Linked DNA regions of Homo sapiens: all the other regions are linked to region 1. The links come from fine-mapping of genetic effects on gene expression. A gene starts in region 1. Each other region holds a variant in brackets. All regions are shown on one strand. Distances are between the middles of the regions. Region 1 holds the start of ZFAND3 (zinc finger AN1-type containing 3). Region 2 overlaps ZFAND3 (zinc finger AN1-type containing 3). Region 3 overlaps ZFAND3 (zinc finger AN1-type containing 3).

Region 1 (8,009 bases):
GACTTGGCAACGTTCCACGGAAACACGTATATCACATTCATACAGACACACAGAGTCATACCCACACACCCAAGCCATTCTCAAGAACCACCAATAGTCTTTCACATTAAAGATATACATCACTCCCTGATCAAAGTTCTTGAGTAGCTCCTCACTGCACTCAGGATAAAAGTCCAAAGTCCTCAGCATTACAATGCTATGAGGGCCCTGGATCACCAATTCCTCTCAATTCCCCAGCCTTATCTCTAGATTGTGATCACCCTTCACAATCTACCAACAGACCCCCTTATCTCTAGATTGTGATCCCCCTTCACAATCTATCAACAGACCCAACAAACCTGTTCCTCAAATGAGTAGTGCTCTCACTCACATCCCGGCCTTCACCCATGTTAGTCCCACTGCCTGAAAGGAATATTTGTTTCCATACTCTACTTCTACCCTTCCTGTGGGTCTAGGCTAAAGTGTCACTTTCTCCAGGCTACTTTCCTCTACCTCCACCCCAGCTAGGGTAGGTGCCCCTCCCCTAGAGCACCTGTACAACGTATTGCAACTGTCAGTTTACTTCCCTGTGCCCCCTGCCCCAGAGTATGGGGCCAGCACCTCCTTGCCCACCATTATATCACAGGCATTCAAATATCTGTTAAATATATTCTAAGTTTACTCAGTGAACAAAATATGAATGTGGCCCATACAGTAAGGGAAACATGTCCAAAGTCAGTTGTGATACGATGGAAACAAGGCGGCAATGTTGCTATGCTTTGGTATAAAATACAAACTACACAATTGTCTACAAACGTCCTTAGGAAAGGTTAAAACATTGCACCAAAAAGAACACTTTTCACGATAAAAATACTAGTTTTGTGGTCACTACTCCTGCTAGGTAAACTGAAGTTCATAAAAAGTATCAGACTGAAAATATCTAAAAAGAAGCCCTGGTTGCTTATAGGTCAAGTACAACATTAGTGTAACTTTTCCTGTCTGCTGCCACCAAACTCTATTGGCATTATCAGAACCCTACCGGCTAAAGGTAAAAGGCTGGCCGGGCGCGGTGGCTCATGCCTGTAATCCCAGCACTTTGGGAGTCCAAGGCAGGCAGATCACCTGAGGTCAGAAGTTTGAGACCACCTTAGCCAACATGGCAAAATCCCGTCTCTCCTAAAAAACACAAAAATTAGCCGGACATAGTGGTGTGCACCTGCAGTCTCAGCTACTTGGGAGGTTGAGGCAGGAGAACTGCTTGAACCCGGGAGGTGCAGGCTGCAGTAAGTCGAGATCACGCCACTGCACTCCAGCCTGGGCAACAGAGCAGGGCTCCGACTCAAAAATAAATAAATAAATAAAGGTAAAAGGCTATTCCATTTCCTTAGTTTCTAAGCCTTGATATAAGTCTTTCGATAAAGATTCCATTCATGGTAACAGTCCGAAGGACATAAACGTGTTGCCAGGAAAGAGACCTGATACATCCTGAGCATTAGCTGCCACTGGCAGCGACTTTCTTTAGGACATATGTCTTACAATGAGTTACAATCTGAGGCTTGTGACACAAGATTTTTCCAGGGCAGCAGACTGATACCATAAACATGATGGTACTACGCACTCTAAAGAGCTCACCAGCTCCACCCTACACTCCCTGTGTGAAGCGGCAAATTATCCACCCAAAGCCTCAGTTTCCCCAGCTAATAATGAGATAATGGTTCCTACCTCGCAAGATTCTTGTGGGAATTAGACAGTCCATGAAAGCACTTCACAGGCAAACCAATTATTTTCAAATCAAAATGAAGGGAAGACTAGAAATATTTTCACATTTTTAGGACTTTTTATATGCCACAACTTATTTTTGACTAATGTCCTTCCACAGGGAAATTTTTGAGAAAGGCAGAAAAATGAGAAAATGAAAATCCACTTCTTTGTCATAACCTTGAGATACGACAACTTCCACAGAAGTCTACATTAAGATCCACTTTCTAATCTTTCTCTGCACTCCCAAAATTACTCTTAATTTCTGTTAACCATTCCTACAATATGGGAGATAGCAAAGGGAAAACTACTTCCATACTTCTTCCCAAGATGTCCTCACCAGAAACAATCTTCCTTCCTGCCTCTATGTCTCCAAATATACGGAATCTCTCAAAAAATAAAACTAAAACAAAACGATAAAAGAGAAAAGGGACTCAAATCACAAAAGCCAGCCTTCAAAGTCTCCAGCTTTCTTACTGCAGAACTACAGTCATGTGGTATGATGGAGGCACCTGTTAGGTGGCAATCCATGAAGCTTAAAGTGTTACCAGGAGAATTTAAACAGTAATGGGGGGAGGAAGAGGAGCTGATTTCCCACCTCACATTTTTTTCGCCTTAACACATGATGGCCAAACAATATATGCTACCCACTGTCAACATTTTTATCATTTTTACTTAAATTGAGAAAGAGGAGAATTTGAGAGCCAACTGAGGAAACTGGATCTCATATTCCCCAATCCAGGCTGACTTCAGGTTTTGTGTGGTTTTTTTCTTCCTTTTTGACAAGGAAATTTTACATATCTCCTGAAACGTGTTTTACATGAAGGTGAGACCTCAACAATCTTATAACTTTACCCCAGCCTGGTTCTGGACTCGGTTTTTACAAACGGGTGACGTGTGAATAGCTTCCTAAAAGCAAATGGGGCACTGGGATATAATCTAGGAAGTGATGATGCAAGTCTCCGGAGGACGGGGAGGAGGGGAGGTGAAGAAGTCAGAGGAAATACCCTCCTAGTGCCTGGGCACCAACTCACGCCCCGGGAGGGAGGAAGGGCTGGCTTCCACATGCCCACGGAAGGGGCACCCCTGCTCCTCCCGGAGCGGTCAACGCCGCCCCCTCATCCCTCCCCGCCGCCCTGCCCCCCTCACCCGTGGCCCAGGAGGCCCCCGTGGGCCCGAGCTTCAGGCCGGCGAGTCCCAAAGGGTAGCAACGCACCCCCGGCAGGGCCTTCTCTGCCCACCCCCAGCTCCCCACCCGGCACCCCTCCCCGGAACGCGACCCCCACCCCCTCCCCGTAGGCCCGGGCTGGGCCCAGCCTCCAAGGTTCCGGCCTCCCGGGCCCCGAGGCCTGCCCAGGCTGCCCTGGCGTCTGCGCCCCCGGCCCCCGCCCCCCGCCCCCACCCGGCCGGGCACTTACCCCCAGAAGCCGCAGGGACAGCGAGGCGGCAGGCTGGGCGCTTTGCTGCGCTCGCTCCCAGCGTCTCCCATGGTGCTCGGCGGCGGCGGAGCTCGGCGGCGGCAGCGGTGGCGGCGGCTGGGCCCGGGCCCCGCTCTGAGGAGGCGGTGGCGGCGGCGTCGGGGGGCTCGGGGCGGGGGGAGGGGGAAGGAGCGGGCGCGCGGGCGGGCGCGAGTCCGGGGCTCGGAGCCGGGATTCCAGGCCGGTCAGCTGGAGGCGGGCCGCACCACTCGGCCTGCGGAGACGGGGAGGGGGCGGAGAGGCGCGGAGAGAAGAAGGAGGGAGCCGAGGAGGAGGGGCGTGCGGACGCACCGAGGACCGCGGGGGAGGAGGGACACAGACGCCCTCGGCGGGTCTCACCGCCGCTCCCCAGCCAGAGAGATGTCCTGTGCGGTGGCGCAGGGAAGGACCGGAGCCCCCCGCCGGCTCCGGAGTCGCAGCGGCCGCTCTGAAGCCCCGGGCCCTGCTGTCTCCGTAACACCGTCCCCTCCCCCGGAGGCTGCGCTGACCGGACAATGGCCGCTCCGCCCCCTCCCCGGCGTGCGCCCCTCCCGAGGAGTCACAATGGTCTCGCCCGGGGGAGCCAACGCCAAAGCCCAGCCGCTGATCAGCTGGGATCCGGGCGTGCCACTTCGTTCCGCGCCTCAAAGGCGGAGTGCGGGGCTGTGGGAGAAAACGAGAGCCTCGGGCTGTCGCCCGGCGACGGGCGGCTGAGGCCTTCGTATTCTTAGAACTTTTAGAATCTGAAGCAAACTTATCTTCCCCCTGTCTGAAGAAGGGGAGCAGGTTTCTGAGTACTCCGGGGCGCGGTGCCTCCCCCTAAACGCGAATGGTGCGCTCCAAGCGGGAGGGGGAGGAGCAGATTAGTTGTGTAGGGTAAATTGGGCCAGTCCCAGAGTGGCGGCGCATGCGCCCGTAGAACCCGTAACCGAGTGCGAGGAGGGGCCTGGGGGAGCAATGCCAAACGCGGAAGTGGAGCTCTGGCTTCCCGGGGGCGTCGGAGTCAAGGTCCCTGGAGCTGCCGCTCTGGCTCCTGGGCGATTCCGGGGAGCCATTCTCCCCAATTTGCCAACTCCCTGGGCATCTCTCTCTCTCTTCCTGGTCCCGCCACACCCAAACAACTCTTATAGTTCCACCCGGTATACTGGTCTCTTGACAGGAACTTTTGGGAAATGCCCCTCCCCCAGCCCCTTGTCTGGGGCAACTTCCTTGTCTCTTCTCCCCCACCGGTGTTGGGGAGTTCCTTGTCTCCACTCCCAACCACAGAGCCACAAGTACATTATCTATGCCCAGGCGAGTCCCTATGCCCAGGCTAGGAGAGCCGCACTTCTTCCTACAGCTGACACGTTTGGTTTTTGGAGGGGAAAGGGGAGCTGTAGCTGAATCAGTAATGGAAATTGGTAAGTGACCAAAGAAGTTTGAGACACTAAAAAAATGAGTCCTTTAACGATCCTAGTCCTTGATCCTGAGCTCATTCTGATCTCCAGTTAGTCATGAACAGAGAAATCGATTATTGATGACTAATTCAACACGGAGGCAACATCCTCCAGACCTTTTGGAGACCCATCGCTGAGGAAGACTTCCTGGCTCTTAGGAATAGCTGCCGTATACCCTCCTTGCCTGTCGGGTATATCAGAGCCTCAGAGAGACTATTACCTAGATTAATTTGATTACCAAATGTTGCTATCTTATTTCTTTATATACCAAATCACATTTCTGTTTGTGCATACTGTGTGGGTTTGTTAACATTGATGTTTATTTTGGCCTCTAAAGAGCAAGGATCGCATTTAGCTTAATATGCCACAGATGCTGTTGATGGTGAAGTTAATGATTGCAAAAATCAAGCACTTAAAGCCAAAACACCCTAAAATGTGAGTGCTGATTTATTATGCACAATGTTTAGTTTTAATTTGGTGGATTTTCCAAAGCCTTCAATAAGTATATCTGTAAGAAAGTGCATAGAAAAAGCCGGACGCTGTGGCTCACGTCTGTAATCCCAGCACTTTGGGAGGCCAAGACGGGTGGATCACCTGAGGTCAGGAGTTCGAGACCAGCTTGGCTAACATGGTGAAACCCCGTCGCTAGTTAAAAAAAAAATACAAAAACTTAGCCGGGCATGGTGGCACGCGTGTAATCCCAGCTACTTGGGAGGCTGAGGCAGGAGAATCGCTTGAACCCGGAGGGCGGGTGTTGCAGTGAGCCGAGATCATGCCATTGCACTCCAGCCTGGGCAACAAGAGCGAGAGCGAAACTCTGTCTCAAAAAAAGAAAGAAAGAAAGAAAAAATGCATAGAAAGGATAAAGCCATACAGCACACCTTGCTCTCATTGGATTCATATTACCCTTAAATCTTCATTTAAGCCGACATAAAATTCCCACATGCGTGAGATACTTAACAGCCTTTGAGTTTAACAAAGATTAAGTGGGATTATCTCTCTTGGCATCTTGATGATTTTCTTTTATGTACAGAAAAGGAAACTCGACAACTAAAAGGAGAATTCAACATAAAAAGTGATTGTCATTTTCCAAACTGCTTTCCTGTTTGCCAGTTATTCAACAAACATTTATTCAGTACCCAGTATACACAAGGACTTTGCTAAGCACTCTGGAGACTAAAAGGATTAATAAAATGTAGCATTCACCAGCAGGTCCCTACATATAATGTAGATAATTTGGTTCCAGTCTTCCTCTCAGACTTCATTTTCTACTCTTCTCTATTCACTCTGCGAAGCAGACACTAGTTGCCATTCCTCAAATACCTTGCTTTCCCACATCTCCATTCCTTTGTCCTCCTGTTCCTGACTGCTTCAGCTGCCTTTTCTCTTTATATGTATACACACAACACAAGGAGATAATCTTATACAACCCAAGGACACAGAGAGCAGTAAGATCGCATGAAGGACTGAAATAGGTACCTAATACATCAACAGGAAGCCAAGTGTTTGGTTTTTTTCGATATCTTTTTCTCTCTGGTTACAGGTTCTTCCATCTCTGCTTCTCTCTACAAAGCTGCTTTATAATCTCGGCAGAGCTGTTTTCACTGCTTTTTTGGGAACGTAATCCAGGTTTACCCAGCCTCACTTCAAGAACAAACAGAGACTAATTAGTATCTATGAATCCCAATCCCCAGGAGAAAGAAACTGATTGGTTCGATTTATGTCCGCTTGTGTACTCTTGGTACAATCACCTTTGACCAACAGGGCAGTTATGTAGTCAGGTCTTTTTGTTTTGTAAAGCAGACATGGCTGCCAGAACCCCATCTTTGTAGGCTATGTTCTCAAAGTTATGTACTTGGCAAAGATTCCAAAAAATGTCCACCACAGACCATAAAGGAGTAAATTGCAGCTGAACTTCAAAAGCATAAAGAACAATTGACATGTTAAGGATTTTCAACAGACTGACTCCTACTTAAACAAATTCAGACCTGAATTTAAATGGAACTCCTTCAAAGAAGTCATCCCTGACCCAAGCCCCAATCAAAATTTGGTGGCCCCATTATTATCTTACATGGCACTCTTTTTCTTTATAGTACCTATCATAGTTTAAATATGTATTTGTGAGTCTCCTCTCCAAAAATCATGTCTGTTTTGTTTACTGTGATATACACAATACTCAAGGTGCATTTGGGAGGCGTTCAATAAATGTTGTATGAATAAAAGCACAATAATTTGTTAGTCAATGTGAGACCCACAAATGGATTGGAGTCATAGTTAGACAATCCTGGGGGAATGTCTTAGTTACCAACCCACCCTCCCTAGAAGACATTGAAGCTCTCTGCTTTTTTTTTTTTCTGACCTCATTCATCACAAGGCTGCCAGCTTTTTTGTCACACTGAAGTTGTATGAGATGAGACAGTATTTAGCTGCTGCTTATGACGTTCCTAGCCAGATAACTCTTTACTCTTAGTTCCCAGTGTCTCTATCTATAGAGCCCTTGATCCAATTCCTATAACAAGCCCACTTAGTTGACTGAAAGCTCAGAGAGGACATAAAATTTCAGGGCATCATCAAATTAGGGGAGCAAAGTGTGGGGGTAATTGGCAGAGTGCTTTTGTCGTAATTGTCTTGACTATTTTCTGTCGTGTATTATGTTCCAGATGAACCTGTGATGTGACTCCTGGGAGTAGTTTGCAATCACCATTGGCCCAAAAGGAGCCATCTACGTGCTCAGTGGGGTCTAGTAAAGGATAATATTAATTCTTCAGCAGCCAGAGCTTTTGAAGTAGGAACTGAGGGTGTATAGAAAAGAGCCTGGTATGATTCAAGGTCAGGAGCAAACAATGGCTGCCTTCTTGGTAAGAATTCAAAAGACCTACTTAGCCCTGGAAGACTTTACCAAAAAGAAGGGACTTGTAGAGACCTGAGAGAAAGCAGATGATCCTCCACTCTAATTCTAATCCCTACCCTTGAAACTCACTCTCAGTTCAAAACTTGTCATCATTATAATCCATCCTAACCTAGTATTAGCCCCAATGTCCAATCCAAACTCTAGATTTAATTCTAATCCTAATATTATCTGTAAAATTTAATCTCAGTTCCCAACTCTAGTTTTATGAGCTTAACAAAGGCTCTTTGCCTTGCCACTGAGTTATTTTCCCTAGCTCCTTTTTCTTGGGTCCCTTGACCCTGACTGACGAATGAGAGCAGAGAACCCTATAACATCCTGGACCTCTGGAGAGAATGAGAGCCAATTTCAATAATCCAGGTTGGATCCAAGGCCTTGGGCTGCCAGGAAAGAGAAAGTGGGGCATCTGTGACCAGAGCAGGAGGCAGAGACCCTGCCCAGTCACATTTCTTGTTGCCTAATTCAGGGACT
Region 2 (8,009 bases), 120 kb before region 1:
TAATTATAATGGAATATTATAGTTAAAATGAACAAGAGCAACGTGTCAACATGATTAGTTTCTAAAAGCATTATTTAAAAGAATACAGGTTGTAGACTAGTACAAAATACCATTTAAACATTTTAAAAACAGAATCATAACAATATTTATATAAATGCCCATTCATAATAAAAAGTGTAAATACAAGGATAAGAAGGAGAGTAGTTGTCTCTGAGTTGGGAAGATGATGACTAGGGTAAAAGAAAACTGTGACATTTTAGTGCCCTTTTTAGTGTGATAAGAAAAAAGGCAAAACATTAACATTTGTTACTTCTGGGTGGGTTTGTGGATATTCTGAATGTCAGACACCCAACCATCCAACAGATACCTACCAACAGACACATAATGGTTAAGAAGAGCCTGGTAAGTTGAGCTGTCCCCTTTTAACAAACACATGACCAAAATGTGTGTGTGTGTTACACGAGAAATCCCTCTTGGGCGTCTGGCTTAGAAGAAATCAAAGAGTATACAAAAGCAATCAAGTCAAAAAGATTACAAAAACAGAAATACTCTATTCAAACACTTCGTCTTAAGAGCAGCAGTTACTTTTTTTGCCTTTTTTTTTTTTTTTTTTTTGAGACGGAGTCTCGCTCTGTCGCTAGGCTGGAGTACAGCAGCGTGATCTCGGCTCACTGCAACCTCCGACTCCCTGGTTCAAGCGATTCTTCTGCCTCAGCCTCCCAAGTAGCTGGAATTACAGGCATGTGCCACCAGGCCCAGCTAATTTTTGTATTTTTAGTAGAGACGGGGTTTCACCATGTTGGCCAGGTTGGTCTCGATCTCCTGACCTCATGATCCGCCCACCTCAGCCTTCCAAAGTGTTAGGATTACAGGCATGAGCCACTGTGCCTGGCCAACAGTTGCTTTCTTTTGGGAAAAGGTGAATTCAAAAAATCAAGGTATGACAAGCTTACAAATTCCACTATCCTGCAAAATTTTTTGTATTGAAATTGGTAATTTGTTTCTACATTATTTGTGCAGAGTTCCTACATTTCTAAAAGGAAAATATATGAGCTTAAAATTTGTCAGACTCACTCTGTTTCTCTTACTGTAAAGCCTCAAAATTCAGCTGTAACCTACAACTCTTTGCTTTTCAAAAGTGACTAGAATCAGACCACTTTTACTCTGGTATTCTAACAGGAAATGAAAGCAGGAAAGAGATTAGTATGTAACTGCAACCACTAAGTTGCAAGTTCATAAGGAAATATTTTAATTTACTTGGTATGAAATGGGAATTTGTTATCCTCTTCTGGAACTATCATGAAACTCAAGTCACTTTCAAGAAAAATGTTAGCATTTTGGCTTATCTACCATTTCACCCTGCGCCCAGCATTGTTATATCACTCACCTTAGATGTCAACACTTAGATTCCCAATGCTGCAGGCGATAGCTAATTTTATTTTGCTCATTCCAGAAAGAAACAAACCACTTCTAGATTGTATAAATTCACTTCACTTTTTAAACATTTGTAATTTGTGCAATTACATTAATACTTAAATCTGAAAACACAGACAAAATTAAAATTTAAAGCTCCCCAATTACTCTTACTCTGAGACTACCACAATTAAATTTTTCATGTCATCTTCCAGCTTTATCTCATGCAACTATACACTTGTACATCATATGTGAACCACGTGATAGCAAATTTCTTAAAAGTTAGTCTTAAATGAAACAGTATGTTTAAATATACCATGTCTACGGTTTATTAAAAATTAAGTATGCACACATTTAAAAGTCCACCGACCAAGTGGTATTCTGAACACTGTGGAACATATATTAAGTTTGCCTTATGATAAGCATCTGTCATCAGAGCTACTCCAACAACCTTCCATTTCTTAAACATATCTTCTGACTCACTGCCTTATAAAGTATACAATGATCAACAGGTTATAGCTACTTTCTAGTCACCATACTCCTCTCTTCTCCCAAAACTAGTATTTCCAAGGGTTTGTGGGGGATAGAGATGGTGTCACATTAGTAGAGGAGTTACTTCAGTCAGTTCTTTTAAAATTTCTGCCTTCCCCACTTGTGATCATCCTCTTTGATGCTTCTGCCATCCACACTTCTATTTAGGAGGTCAGCAAAACCATTCTGTGAAAAGCACTGCTTTAATGATAGCTGGCCTTCAGTATGCTAGAACAAGAGGTCATCATGAATTAGGTACTAACTATTCCTAAATATTAAACACTGGTCAACTAAAATGCACAAATTCATGAATTGGATTTGCACTCAAACAAAAAAAAATACCATAGGCAGTATCATTTCTACCTTTGTAAGAGGCAGGAATATTCATTAGACTCTATGCTTGACTTTTCATATGTATTTTAACACTGTAGTAGGCTATCGGGTCTAGTTTAAGCTTCATTTCTAAACTACTCAACAGCTCAGAACTGACAAAGATCACAAGAAATCAACTATTAACCTCTTGCCTGAAGACACAAATGAAATATTCCCTATTTTACAAAGCAAATTAGATTCCAAGATTTTCCAAAGCCATACTCCTGCAGTTCACTGGGTTTCAAACTTAAAATCATAATAGTAATATACACATATTTACATTATAACCCATTACACATTATTTTCAACTCAATGCAAGTCAAACAAAGGTTTCACAAAATAACTTTACTATGTGCAATACACTGATATTTTCTATTCTACTCAGAATTTTTTAAATACTAATCATGACCCATTAAATTGTCTACCCACTAATGAGTGACAATACCCAGTTTGAAAAACTGCATTAAGAGGTAGTATTTCAACCAATAAATGTTAATTTGCCATAACTATGTCATAAAATTTTCTCGCTTTTTATATTCATTTACTTATTTAAGTAAAATCATATATAAAACAATATAAAAATATTTAATGAAAGGACAGTGTGACAGGTAGAATATTATCAAGGGGGTAAGAAAAGCCAAAATTAGGCCATAAGAGATCCTCAGACCAGCTCTGATAATTGGAAAGATTTGTGGCAAAATCAATTGATAACTCATGTCCCAGGGTGCTTACATACCATCCTTTTCAATAGTTTAGAAAGTCTCCA[C/T]AACTTCAAAATGCAAAGCTGTTAAGCAAAACCTTTCTTTAGCAATAATATAAAAATAATCAACACTTTTGACTGGGAAGAATTATATATCAACTAAAAGGTCCTTATGCAAACTCCAGGAATTTCAGGCTTCTCTACCTACACAATAGTCTTAGACTTGAGAGATATAGATCCACATTTCCAAACAAATGTACTGAATTGTAATTTGAGAAAAGAAAATACAGAATATGTGAAAGGGGGACTGACGGGGAAGGTAGAAAAATAACAAATAGGAATTCTTACAGGAATGGAGAGAATATAGTATGGTAAGATTAACTTTTGCTTTTTTTTTTTTTTTTTTTTTTTTTTGAGACAGAGTCTCACTCTGTTGCCCAGGCTGGAATGCAGTGGCACAATCTCAGCTCACTGCAACCTCCACCCACCGGGTTCAAGTGATTCTCCTGCCTCAGCCTCCCGAGTAGCTGGGACTACAGGCATGCACCACTACACTCAGCTAATTTTTTTGTATTTTTAGTAGAGACAGGGTTTCACCATGTTGGTTAGGCTAGTCTCGAACTCCTGACCTCAAATGATCCATCCACCCACCTGGGGCCTCCCAAAGTCCTGGGATTACAGGCGTGAGCCACCGGGTCTGGACTTTTTTTTTTTTTTTTTTTTAAATAGACTAAATGACCTCAGATAAAGAGAATGTAGATGAGCAATTTAAGTCCACTTTACCTCAAATCCTAATACTTGAGTCAATCACTTCCTGGTACTTCCCCAGAATACTTAACTGTAAGTGTCGTAGTTATCCTGGCATAGAAAATATTGGATGATAAAGGTTTCTAGGTCAAGGCCTTTCTCTTAAGACTGAGAAAGAAGTATACTTAAATGTCTTTGTGAAGAAAAGTCCTTTGGAATCGCTTGAACCCGGGAGGCAGAGGCTGCAGTGAGCTGAGATGGCACCACTGCACTCCAGCCAGGGCTACAGAGCCAGATTCCGTCTCAAAAAAAAAAAAGGGCCGGGCGCAGTGGCTTACACCTGTAATCCCAGCACTTTGGGAGGCCAAGGTGGGCGGATCACCTGAGCTCAGGAGTTCAAGGCCACTGTGACCAACATGGAGAAACTCTGTCTCTACTAAAAACACAAAAATTAGCCAGGCGTGGTGGCGCACGCCTGTAATCCCAGCTACTTGGGAGGCTGAGGCGGGACAATCACTTGAACCCGGGAGGCGGAGGTTGCGGTAAGCAGAGATCGCGCCACTGCACTCCAGCCTGGGCAACAAGGGCGAAACTCCGTCTCAAAAAAAAAAAAAAAAAAAAATGAGAGAGAGAGATCCTTTAAACAGTCTTAAATGATTTTAGCCTTTAAAGGTAACAGAGGCCAAACCAGGGTTAATGATAAGATAGTTGTCAAAAAGTTTAAAAAACAAACAAACAAACAAACAAAAAAACCTCTCTCATTTCAAAGAGAGGAATTTTGGTTGAGCTTCGAGTCTTTAGCAAATCCAGCCCAGCCAGGTTGGGCCCTCTTCCACATACATGCAAAGGTCTGATACAAACATTTCTCATTCTAACAATACACAGAAGCATTATAATTTGGTATATAGTTTACCAGCAACTAACATTTCAATGGCTTTTAGCAACTGTCACTCTGCATATACTCATTTCTCCTTTCTTATTCCTTTCCTCTAAATTCAAACATCCCAAGAATATTTTATAAAGGAGAAACAGCTTAAGTAATGATGGCTATTGGGTCAGGTGTGTGCTCACCACTTAGCAGAATATTTCACCAGCAGCAAAACAGTTCTCCAAGTAAACACACACACCCCTAGTTCCTAACCTACAACGTATTCTCTCGGTAAGACTTTAAAGATGTTTTTCCCATTTCATTCAATTTTATGTAAACAAGTTATAACAAACTAATTTTTTCACCACATAGATTTTGAAAAGGAATCTTGAAAAGAAAATGTTTAACCTAGTGGCAAACAATAACTATTTAAAAAGTGATTTTTCCATCTTTTAAAGTACACTGTACATTTTACAATATACTTTAAAAAGAGTCTTTTAAGATCACAGTGGCTTTGGCCAAAATAATCTTTATGTTGTCTTGTAAAACTCATGGCTCTTCTGTAATACTGCATTCACTATACTCTCCTTATGTTCATACTGAGATGACATCCAAAAATGTATTTTTAAAGTTCAATGATCTCTTTTCTTTTGAATTTCTAAAGGTACATAAAATTCTGTTTCAGCAGACAGGATATTAACTAGTCATGCCACGCAAATGCAACTGGAGAAAGCAGTAGTGTGTAGGTAAAAAATATAGAGAGAAGCGAATATTTTCTTTAGATACTTGAAAATGTCCTAATATTTTTATAAAAGCAAAAATGGCAAGGCTGTATAAAATGTAAATAGACACAGATCACGAGACAGATAATTATAAACACAGAAAGTAAAACTGTAACAAGTCCAAAGAAACACAAAGCCCATGGCTGAACTCTAGCTTCATAGTTAAAATTTTTTTAACTTTGTATTCATTTAGGGGCACAAGATAGTTCCTCAGGAGTATTTGATGTGAACCACCTTATTATTCAAAGGTGTCTGGCCTTCTCCCAAAGCCATACTTTACTAAATTACAATGGGGTCTCCATGTGGGGACAAATATATAATCTAATACAGGTTGAGTACCCCTAATTCAAAATGCTTGAGACCAGAAGTGTTGGGATTTGTTTTTCTCAGATTTTGGAACATTTGCACTTTGGAGCATTTCAGATTTGGGATTTGGGGTTCTCAACCTGTATACATTTTGTCTCACTGCTACTTTCGTCTTCACTATAAAGTTAACCTTTCATCAGTGAAGAAGCATTTCTTCATATCTGTAATTGTAGATACATAAGGTAAGCAGCAGAATACAGTCCTTTTATTTATTTATTTTTTTTTTTTTGAGACAGAGTCTCGTTCTGGCTGGAGTGCAGTGGCGTGATCTCGGCTCACTGCAAACTCCGCCTCCTAGGTTCAAGCGATTCTCCCGCCTCAGCCTCCCGAGTAGCTGGGATTACAGGCACGGGCCACCACACCCAGCTAATTTTTGTGTTTTTAGTAGAGACGGGGTTTCGCCATGTTGGCCAGGATGGTCTCGCTCTCCAGACCTCGTGGTCCACCCACCTCGGCCTCCCAAAGTGCTGGGATTATAGGCGTGAGCCACTGCGCCCGGCCTGAATACAGTCCTTTAACATGGCACAAATACTGCTAAAAGCTGAATAAAAACCCACCAATATTTCTTTTCTTTTAAAAACCTAAGTATCTGACAAATTCCAAATTTTGAACCTATAAAAGCTGTCAGCTTCCCCAATTCTTTCCCATCTAACCCCTAGTTTAGGCACAAATGTAACGGTCTAAAGCTTACACCATGATTACTTCCTTGCCCAAATAGCATAATGAATAGATTAAAATTAACAACAACAAAAAAAATCTCTTTAATAAAAATCTAGCCAGCCTCCTCTGAGCCCTCTTCTGGACCAGGCCTCAACCTGGACCTTTAAAAACTACAGACTCTCAAAACAAATGATTTGGTCCACTCCCTCCTTTCACATTAAAAGACTTACACACACTAACATTTCTTTTTTTTGTTTGGTTGGTTTTTTTTTTGTTTTTTTTTTTTTGAGACGGAGTCTCACTCTGTTACCAGGATGGAGTGCAGTGGCGCAATCTCAGCTCACTGCACCTCTGCCTCCCAGGTTCAAGCAATTCTCCTGCCTCAGCCTCCGGAGTAGCTGGGACTACAGGTGCACACCACCACATCCAGCTAATTTTAAATACTAACATTTCTAACAGCTCAAGGTTACCTCCCTAGGATGACCCTAGCCTCTCTCAAATTGTCTGCCTCTTAAAGCTCAAGGCTGCCAAAGAATCTACTGTTTGTTCTAGCCAGCATCTGAAGATAGGCCCTAACTATCCTCTTAGATCATTTACTAAAAAGGGCTTACAACTGTGAATCCTTCCTCTGTCCCTTTGAGCTGTACTCCTACAACTCAGGAGTGTCTTTCTCAAGGACCTGAAAGCCATTCCTTTAAAAATGTAACCATCAGGAAAAATAGGGTATCTATTCCCCAGTCACAGTGTCAGCTAACAGGCACAGCTGGCCTAATCACCATATTTTACCAATCTTTTTAAATTCTTCACTTCTTTGAGTCTACAGATTCCGTTTATCCACCCTGCCAAGTCCCCTGCCATTCTCCCTTTAAAACTCCCAGTCATCTCTGCAAATCAACATTGACTTCATTTCATACTGGACTCTCTTCCCTATTGCAAAAGTGTATTACTGACTAAAACCTGTCCTTAGAACTTTAGCTAGTATGCAGCTTTGTTTACCTTTGACAAAATGAATAAAGAAGGAAAGTTAAACATATCCTAATTAGCAAAGACTTATTTATATAGGATCGCTAGATAGAAAGTTTTTTAAAAAGTAAAAATAAAAAGACCTAAAAGTTTCAACTTCATGAAGGAGTCATAATTCCAGAAGTTAACCAATTACCTCTGGGGCTAGAAAAGGACCTTGGCACATGTCAAGCCCAAGTCCTTCATTTTATAATGATGAATCCAAGGTCCAAAGAGATTACGTGACTTACCCGAGGTGATTTGAATGAGGGATCTGCAGGAGGCTTTTTGTTTTTATAGAGACAAGGTCTCACTATGTTGCCCAGGCTGGTCTCAAACTCCTGGCCTCAAGCAATCCTCCTGTCTCTGCCTCCCAAAGTGCTGGGATTATAGGCGTGAGACACCATGGCAGCCTCTATGATGGATCTGATGATGGGCTAACTCAGCTTGATTCTCTTCCTGACTCCAACATGAAAATATTCTGTTACATTCTCATTGATAGAGCAACATTAACCAATAATCATTCAAGTCAAGATGAGCACGCATTTTTTACAGTTCTACTGTATAC
Region 3 (8,009 bases), 160 kb before region 1:
AGCGAGGCAGGTTAACAGGGACTGGATTTCTCTTCCTGCCTGAAACAAAAACAAATAAAAACAGACAAAAATTACAATTTTCATGACTCTGGATATCTAGCAAAAAAAAAAAAAAAGACAGTGACCTCTGAGAGATGGGAAACAAAGGAGACCAGCCCTACAATTGTCTTGGCTTATTGCCTTGAAGAGAATTACTGGGCCATGGAACAGAGAAGGGAACATGAAGTGGAGTACAGCAGTAGCCCTGGCTTGGTAGGCATGTAACCTGTGCAGCTGCAGCTCCGAAGGGTGCAGTGCTTGGTTTAATGATCTGATTAAAATTAGAATTTTAAGAAACTAAATAATTTTTTAACAAAGGCTCACATTTTCATTTTACACTGGGCCCTGCTAATTATATAGCTGGTCCTACTCAGCAGATGTGGTAAGTTGAGGAAATAAGCTAAGAGGCCTGATGAGAACAAAGCAGCTAGAGTTCACAGAACAGAAAAACACACAAGGAAGAGTTATATATCAGGAGAGGATCCTGATTATTCAGCCAAGTACAGGTCAGCACATGCATACGAAAAAACTATCTGATGCCAGGCAAAGAACCATCGTAATGGATTGTTTTGACAGGGCTTGAGACGCACATAGACAGGGCAAGGAATAGTGCCTGTGCCCAATGTCAGACTGGAAAAACTCATAATTCAGGAGCATTGCATAGAGTACTCAAGAAGGTTTTATCTTGGAAGTAGAGAACAATTAACTCTACATTGAGCACCTCTCCAAACCCACTTTTAAACACACACACACCATAAAAGCACAATTCCAAAAGACAAAATTGCTTCCAAGTAACTTAACTGCATCTTCGAACAAAGCTCAAGATTTGTACATTTACAGAAATACATGGCACCCAACAAAGTAAATCTCACAGTATCTGCCACCCAAACACAGATAATCAAATACACAAAGTTGTAAGAAAACTTGACCCACCATGAAAAGAATAATCACAACCAACTCAGAACTGACAGAGGTGTTGAAATTAGCAGAGATGGATATTAAAACACCACCACAGCAGAATTTGCAGGCTGCCACTGAAGCAGTAACGAGGTGAAAAATTTTAGCATTAAATCTTTATTAGAAAAGATTTCAAATCAATAAACTCAGTTCCCACCTTAAGAAAGAAAATAAGAACAAATTAAACTCAAAGTAGAAGGAAGGAAATAAAGATTAAAGTGAGAATTCATGAAACAGAAAAAAGCCATGAAACCCAAAAGAGGGGTCTTTGAGATTATCAATAAGTTGATAAATGTCTAGCCAGACTGACTAGAGAAAAAAAAAAAAGACACAAATTATCAGTATCAGAAATGAGAGGTGTCTTCACTACAGTTTTATGCATATTAAAAGCATAAAATGCTGGCCAGCCTGGCCAACATGGTAAAACCCCATCTCTACTAAAAATACAAAAATTAGCCCAGTGTGGTGGCCGGCGCCTGTAATCCCTGCTACTCAGGAGGCTGAGGCATGAGAATCACTTGAACCCAGGAGGCAGAGGTTGCAGTGAGCTGAGACGGATGAAATGTTATAAACAACTTTATGCCATAAATACAAGTTAGAGGAAATGGACAAACGCACTAAAAGACAAGCTCACTCAAGAAGAAATAGATATTCTGAATAACCGTGTATCATTATCAAAGAAATTGCATTTGCAGTTAAAACTCTCTGACAAAGAAAACTCCCTGTGTAGATGGCTTCATTCATGAATCTCATCAAACATTTAAAGAAGAAACAACAGCAACTCTAAACAAACCCCTAACAGAAAATTAAAGAGGAAGGGAATACTTTCCAACTCATTCTATGAGTTCAGAAGTACTCTAATAACAAAACCAGACAAAGACATTACAAGATAAAACTACAGACCAACATCCATGATGAAATGTAGATGCAAAAATTCTAAGCAAAATTTTATCCAAAAATAGAATGTATCACAACCAAACGGAATTTATCCCAAAATTGTATGACTGCTTTAACATTTGAAACCCAACCAGTGTAATTAATTCACTATATTAATGAATTAAAGGAGAAAAACAACATGATCTCAACAGACATAGAAAAAACATTTTACAGCCAGGCACAGTCTCAGTTCGAGACTGGCCTGACCAACATGGTGAAACCCTGTGTCTCCACTAAAAATACGAAAATTAGCCAGCCATAGAGGTGGGCACCTGTAATCCCAGCTACTGAGGAGGCTGAGGCAGGAGAATCACTTGAACTCAGGAGGCGGAAGTTGCAGTGAGCTTGAGATCAAGCCACTGCACTCTAGCCTGGGAGACAGAGTGAGAAGGAAGAAAGGAAGAAAGGAAGAAAGGAAGAACGGAAGAAAGGAAGAAAGGAAGAGGAGAGGAGAGGAGAGAAAGGAAGGAAGAAGGAAAGGAAGGAAGGAAGGAAGGAAGGAAGGAAGGAAGGAAGGAAAAGCATTTTACAAAATTCAACATTCATTCTTCATTTGAAAAAAAAAAAAAACAAAAAACTCAGCAAACCAGAAATAAAAGGGGGCTTCCTTAACCTAATCAAGAGCATCTGTGAAAAACCTATAGCTAATCTCATACTTACTGGTGAAAGACTGAAAGCTTGCCCTCTTAGATCAGCAACAGAAAGGGACGTTTGCTCCCACCACCTCTATTCAACATTGTAGGCTGGGTGCAGTGGCTCATGTCCGTAAGCAATCCCAGCACTTTGGGAGGCTGAGGCATGCGGATCACTTGAGGTCAGGAGTTCAAGACCAGCCTGGTCAACATGGTGAAACCCCCGTCTCTACTAAAAATACAAAAATTACCCAGGCGTAGTGGTGGGCACCTGTAATCCTAGCTACTCGGGAGGCTAACGCACGAGAATCACTTGAACCCGGGAGGCAGAGGTTGCAGTCAGCTGAGATCGTGCTACTGCACTCCAGCCTGGGCGACAGAGCGAGACTCAGTCTCAAAAATAAATAAATACATAAATAAATAGTACTGAAGAGTCTAACCAGTACAATCATGTGAGAAAAGAAATACAGTTATACGACGTAACACAACATTTCAGTCGATGACAGACCACATATACAATGAGGGTCCCATAAGATTATATTTCTACTATACCTTTTCTACTTATGTTTAGATACTAAAATATTTACCATTGTGTTACAATTGCCTACAGTATTTGGTGCAGTATACTCTATGATGTTAGCACAATGATGACATTGCCTAACAATGCATTTCTCTGAATGCATCCTCACAATTAAGAGACACATGACCATAAAAGGTATCTAAAGTGGAGAGAAAGAAGTAAAACTGTCTTCATTCACAAACATCATGATTGTCTGGTGATATGGTTTGGCTCTGTGTCCCCACCCAAATATCATCTAAAATTGTAATCCCCACGTGTCCCCACCAGGAAGGGACCTGGTGGAAGGTGACTGGATCATGGGGGTGGTTTCCCCCATGCTGTTCTCATGATAGTGAGGGAGCTCTCACAAGAGCTCATGGTGTTAAAGTGTGGCCCTTCCTCTTTCTCACCTGCCACCATGTAAGACATGCCTCACTTCTCCTTTGCCTTCCACCATTATTGTAAGTTTCCTGAGGCCTCCCTGTTCATGCAGAACTGTGAGTCAATTAAACCTCTTTTGTTTATAAATTACCCAGTCTCGGGTAGTATCTTTTTTTTTTTTTTTTTTTTTTGGAGACAGTGTCTCACTCTGTTACACAGGCTGGAGTGCAGTGGCGCAATCTCGGCTCACTGCAACCTCTACTTCCGGGGCTCAAGTGATTCTTCCACCTCAGCCTCCCAAGTAGCTGGGACTATAGGTGTGTGCCACCATTCCCAGATAA[T/C]TTTTGTCTTTTTTTGGTAGAGACAGGGTTTCACCATGTTGGTCAGTCTGGTCTCAAACTCCTGACCTCAACTGACCCACCTACCTTGGCCTCCCAAAGTGCTGGGAATACAGGCATGAGCCACCACGCCTGGCCTCTGGTAGTATCTTTACAGCAGTGTGAAAATGGACTAATACATCTTTATAGAAAACCCAATGAATAAATAATAAAGTTACTATAACTAATAAGTTTACCAAGTTTACAGATACAAAATCAATATATGAACCATCACATACTATTTTCAAAGGTTAAATACCCTTTAAAGTAGCATCAACAATATTAACTTCTTAGAGATAAATCTGACAAAACATGTGAAAGACCTATACAACAAAAAATATGAAATTTTGCTGAGAGAAATTAAAGAAGGCCTAAAGAGAGATCACTTCTATCATAGATTGAAAGACTCAACATTGTTAAGATGTAAATTTTCCCGTTAATCTACACATTCACAGCAATCCCAACCACAAATCCAGCAGGATTTTTGGGAGAAACTGACAAACTGATGCTAAAACTCATATTGAAATAAAAAGGGCCTAGAATAGCCAAAACAACTCTGAAAATAAAGTTGAAGGATTAACACTACCTGATTTCAAGAATTATTATAAAGTTTATGTAATCAAAAGAGGTATTGGCATAAAGCAGACAAACAGATCAATGCAACAGAATATAAACTCCAGAAAAAAAACCCCCACATATATGGACAACTGACTTTTGACAAAGTCCCAAAGGCACTGCAGTGTGAAGAAAGATAGCCTTTTCAACTACTGGTGCTTGAAAATAATAAACTCAGATGTATACCTCCATATCATATATAAAAATTTACATAAATCATCAGTATAAATATAAACCCTGAAACTATGAAACTTCCTGAAGAAAATGCAGAAAAAATATTTAAAAGCATAAAGAACAAATGGATAAACTGAACTTCATTGAAATGAAAAACTTCTCTTCAAAACTCACTGTTATAAAAAAGACAAGTCAAAGAGCAAGAAAAAATCTTTGCAAACATAAATATGAAAAAGATTTGTATCCAGAATAAAGGATATTAATAGTATCAGTAACAAAAGAAAAAAACCCAATTTAAAAATAGGCAAAAAAATTTCAACGGTTGAACAAAGAAGATACATGGATGGCAATAAGCTCATGAAAAGATGCTCAATGTCATTAGAGAAATGCAAATTGTAACCATAATGAGGAATCAGTACACACCTATTAGAAGGTCTAAAATTAAAAAGACTAACCATACTAAGTGTTGGTGAGGATATGGAGGAACTGAAACTTCCATACACTGCTGGTAGGAATGTTGAACAATATAACCACTTTGGAAAAGTTTGGCAGTTTCTTAAAAAGTTAAAACATACAACCTATGATATGATCAGCCATTTCATTTGCAGGCATTTACCCAGAAGCAAAGGAATATACATCCATATAAAGACATTTATGTGATAGCCAGACATAGTGGCACACATCTATATTCCTACCTACTTGGGAGGCTGAGGTAGGAGGACTACATGAGTTCAGGAGCTCAAAGCCACCAAATGTCCATCAACTAATAAATGGATTAGGCAGTCTGTAGTACTACCCACATAATGGAATACTACTTAGCAAAAGAAAAGAATGAACTATTGATATAGACAACAACATAGATGAATCTCAAAATATGCTGAGTGAAAGTAGCCAGACCAAACAAGAGTATATATAGTTGGTCATGGTGGCTCACACCTATAATTCCAGCACTTTGGGAGACCAAGGTGGGACAATCGCTTGAGCCCATGAGTTTGAGACCAGCCTGGGCAGCACAGCAAGACCCTATCTCTACAAAAATTATCCAGGTGTTGGAGCGCACGCCTGTAGCTCCAGGTACTCAGGAGGCTGAGGTGGGAGGATTGCCTGAATCTAGAAAGTTGAGGCTGCAGTGAGGTGTGATCACGCTACTGCCCTCCAGCCTGAACAACACAGCTAGACCCTGTCTCCAAAAAAAAAAAAAAAAAAAGAGAGAGAGAGAGAGAGAGTATATAATGCATGATTTCAGGCCAGGCACGGTAGCTCACGCCTGTAATCCCAGCAGTCTGGGGAGGCCGAGGAGGGCAGATCACTTGAGGTCAGAAGTTCGAGACCAGCTGGGCCAACATGGTCAAACTCCGTCTCTACTAAAAAATACAAAAATTAGCCAGGTGTCATGGCAGGCGCCTGCAATCCCAGCTACTCGGCAGCCTGAGACATGAGAATCGCTTGAACCTAGGGGAGAGGCAGAGGTTGCAATGAGCCCAGATTTCTTTTTCAGAGAAAATAATGAAGGTAAAGGTGGCAGGTATGGGAATTAGCCAAAAGAATAATTATTTGTTGTAGAAAGGCAAAAGCTGCTATTTCTACTTCCAAGTCTGGCAATTTTGAGTACAGGAAAACTTTATTATTTTCCTGCAGATAGGCAATAAACTCTCGGTCACTAAAGCTGTCTCTCTGAGATAGAGAACTAATCAAACCTACAACACAATATACTGGCCACTGTATTGCTCGTCAAAGGTGATAGTAAATGCTTTCTAAGTAGATGAGAAAGAACATTTCAGAATTTTCCCAGATTTGAAAGAAAAGACAGTCCTTAAATTATTTCATGAAAAAATCAAGAAAAGTCACAACAATTTCTGACTCCAGGCCATACACAGGCCTTCTTCAGCTTCAGGAAAATCACAAAGGATCACTTTCTCTCAGAAACACTAGCTTAGCTTAAGTACTCAGTGTAATGCTTCAGAGCTGTGCTATCTAATACAGAAAGCAATAGACACATGTGGCTATTTAAATTAACTACAATTAAATAAAATGGAAAATGCAGTTCCTAAGTCACACTAGCCACACCTGAAGTGTTCAATAACCACATGTAGCTACCATGTTGGATAGCACAGATAGAGAACATTTCTATCATTACAAAAAGTTGCATCAGACAGTGCTACTCCACAGTAACCAAGTTTAGAGAAAGACAGTAGCTTTTTAACAACTCTTTAGTTCTTCAGAAACTTTCATAAGTGGTGTTGTAACAGTTTTATGAATCCATGCTTTTTAAAGTTTAGGTACTGAGGCCACCCACCAATGAAATGAAATTTGCTTCAAATACTATCAACCTAGAATGGAGCATAGAATTTTTTTAATCCCATAAAATTTCCTTTACCTTGGGTGTATTTAACTACTTGCAAAGCACCATCAATCATCTATGGGACTCAAAGTTGTTCTGCCCCCTTTGCAACATTTGAAAACTGACAAAGAAAATCATGACAGTTTTACCAAATCAGCAACTCAGAAACTAAGAAAAAGCAGTGAAACAATCAAAAGCCATGAATATACTAACAGTATATTCATGATGACTTTGACAAATGAACTCGAGGGAGGGAAATGCCAACAAAAACTCAGTAAGTGCAAAGTTTTTTTCAAAATAAACTACCACTTTATTAATGGATATAAATGTTGGCAAATTGCATGAATAATTCAGGTCTACTTTCAGTTAAGTGGAATCTTCACTAAAGCCATATATTATTGACTTCACAGCACTTGTTTCTAGTTGACTGCTTAATAAATAAATAAATCTACTCTAATCCCAGTTTACAGCCAATAGTGAAGACAAATATTATCTATCACTCACCCACCCATTTTAAGTACCTTCAGCCAAAATAAAATCTTACCCCAATGGTGTAAAAAAAAAAAAAAAATTAATAGGCCTGAAAACCTTACAAAGGGAAGAGAGGGCATAAAGTATAGCACCTGGTCCAACTATCAATCTGCTAATAATCTCATTCAAATAAAATAATAGCTGTTGTGTGAGACTCCAAGAGACAATCTTGAGTGTTTCAAATCATACCTGGTAAGTCCTAACTCTTTACAGATCCTCAAAATGAACAGTCTCACAATTCCATATACCTACAAGAGTCCAAAAACTACTGAGGAGCCATATCTGTTATTCTAACACCACACTTAGTGTGAATATTATATCTGGAGGTGTATTTTCATTAACAGAAGATTTATCCATTATTTCTGAAGCCTCACAGAGGCAAGTATAAACTTTGAGTGGCTGACAAAATAGAAAGACTGGGTTGGTGAATTAATGCTCTTAGAGTGGGGCTTATGTGCTAAACCCAG

Evidence for each region. PIP is the estimated chance that this variant, and not a neighbour inherited with it, causes the effect.
Region 2: its variant is the best candidate, but not a certain one, in a credible set for the expression of ZFAND3 in whole blood (INTERVAL, PIP 0.77).
Region 3: its variant is the best candidate, but not a certain one, in a credible set for the expression of ZFAND3 in whole blood (TOPMed, PIP 0.69).

Annotation. Positions count from the first base shown.
Region 1 is chr6:37,815,163-37,823,171 of GRCh38, reverse strand. ZFAND3 (zinc finger AN1-type containing 3) reads right to left here and starts at 3,445. Exons shown (of 6, transcript NM_021943.3): 1 at 3,156-3,445. The coding sequence starts at 3,226. ZFAND3-DT (ZFAND3 divergent transcript) reads left to right here and starts at 3,785. Exons shown (of 2, transcript XR_007059569.1): 1 at 3,785-4,594; 2 at 4,682-6,858. RefSeq lists silencers at 2,819-2,988, 3,149-3,378, 3,419-3,798 and enhancers at 3,077-3,879, 3,849-4,238.
Region 2 is chr6:37,930,260-37,938,268 of GRCh38, reverse strand. All of the region lies in intron 2 of ZFAND3 (zinc finger AN1-type containing 3), which reads right to left. Among named protein-coding and RNA genes, the nearest start is that of ZFAND3, 110 kb to the right of the region's middle. The variant C/T (reference allele first, on the strand shown) is at 3,083.
Region 3 is chr6:37,972,271-37,980,279 of GRCh38, reverse strand. All of the region lies in intron 2 of ZFAND3 (zinc finger AN1-type containing 3), which reads right to left. Among named protein-coding and RNA genes, the nearest start is that of ZFAND3, 160 kb to the right of the region's middle. The variant T/C (reference allele first, on the strand shown) is at 3,846.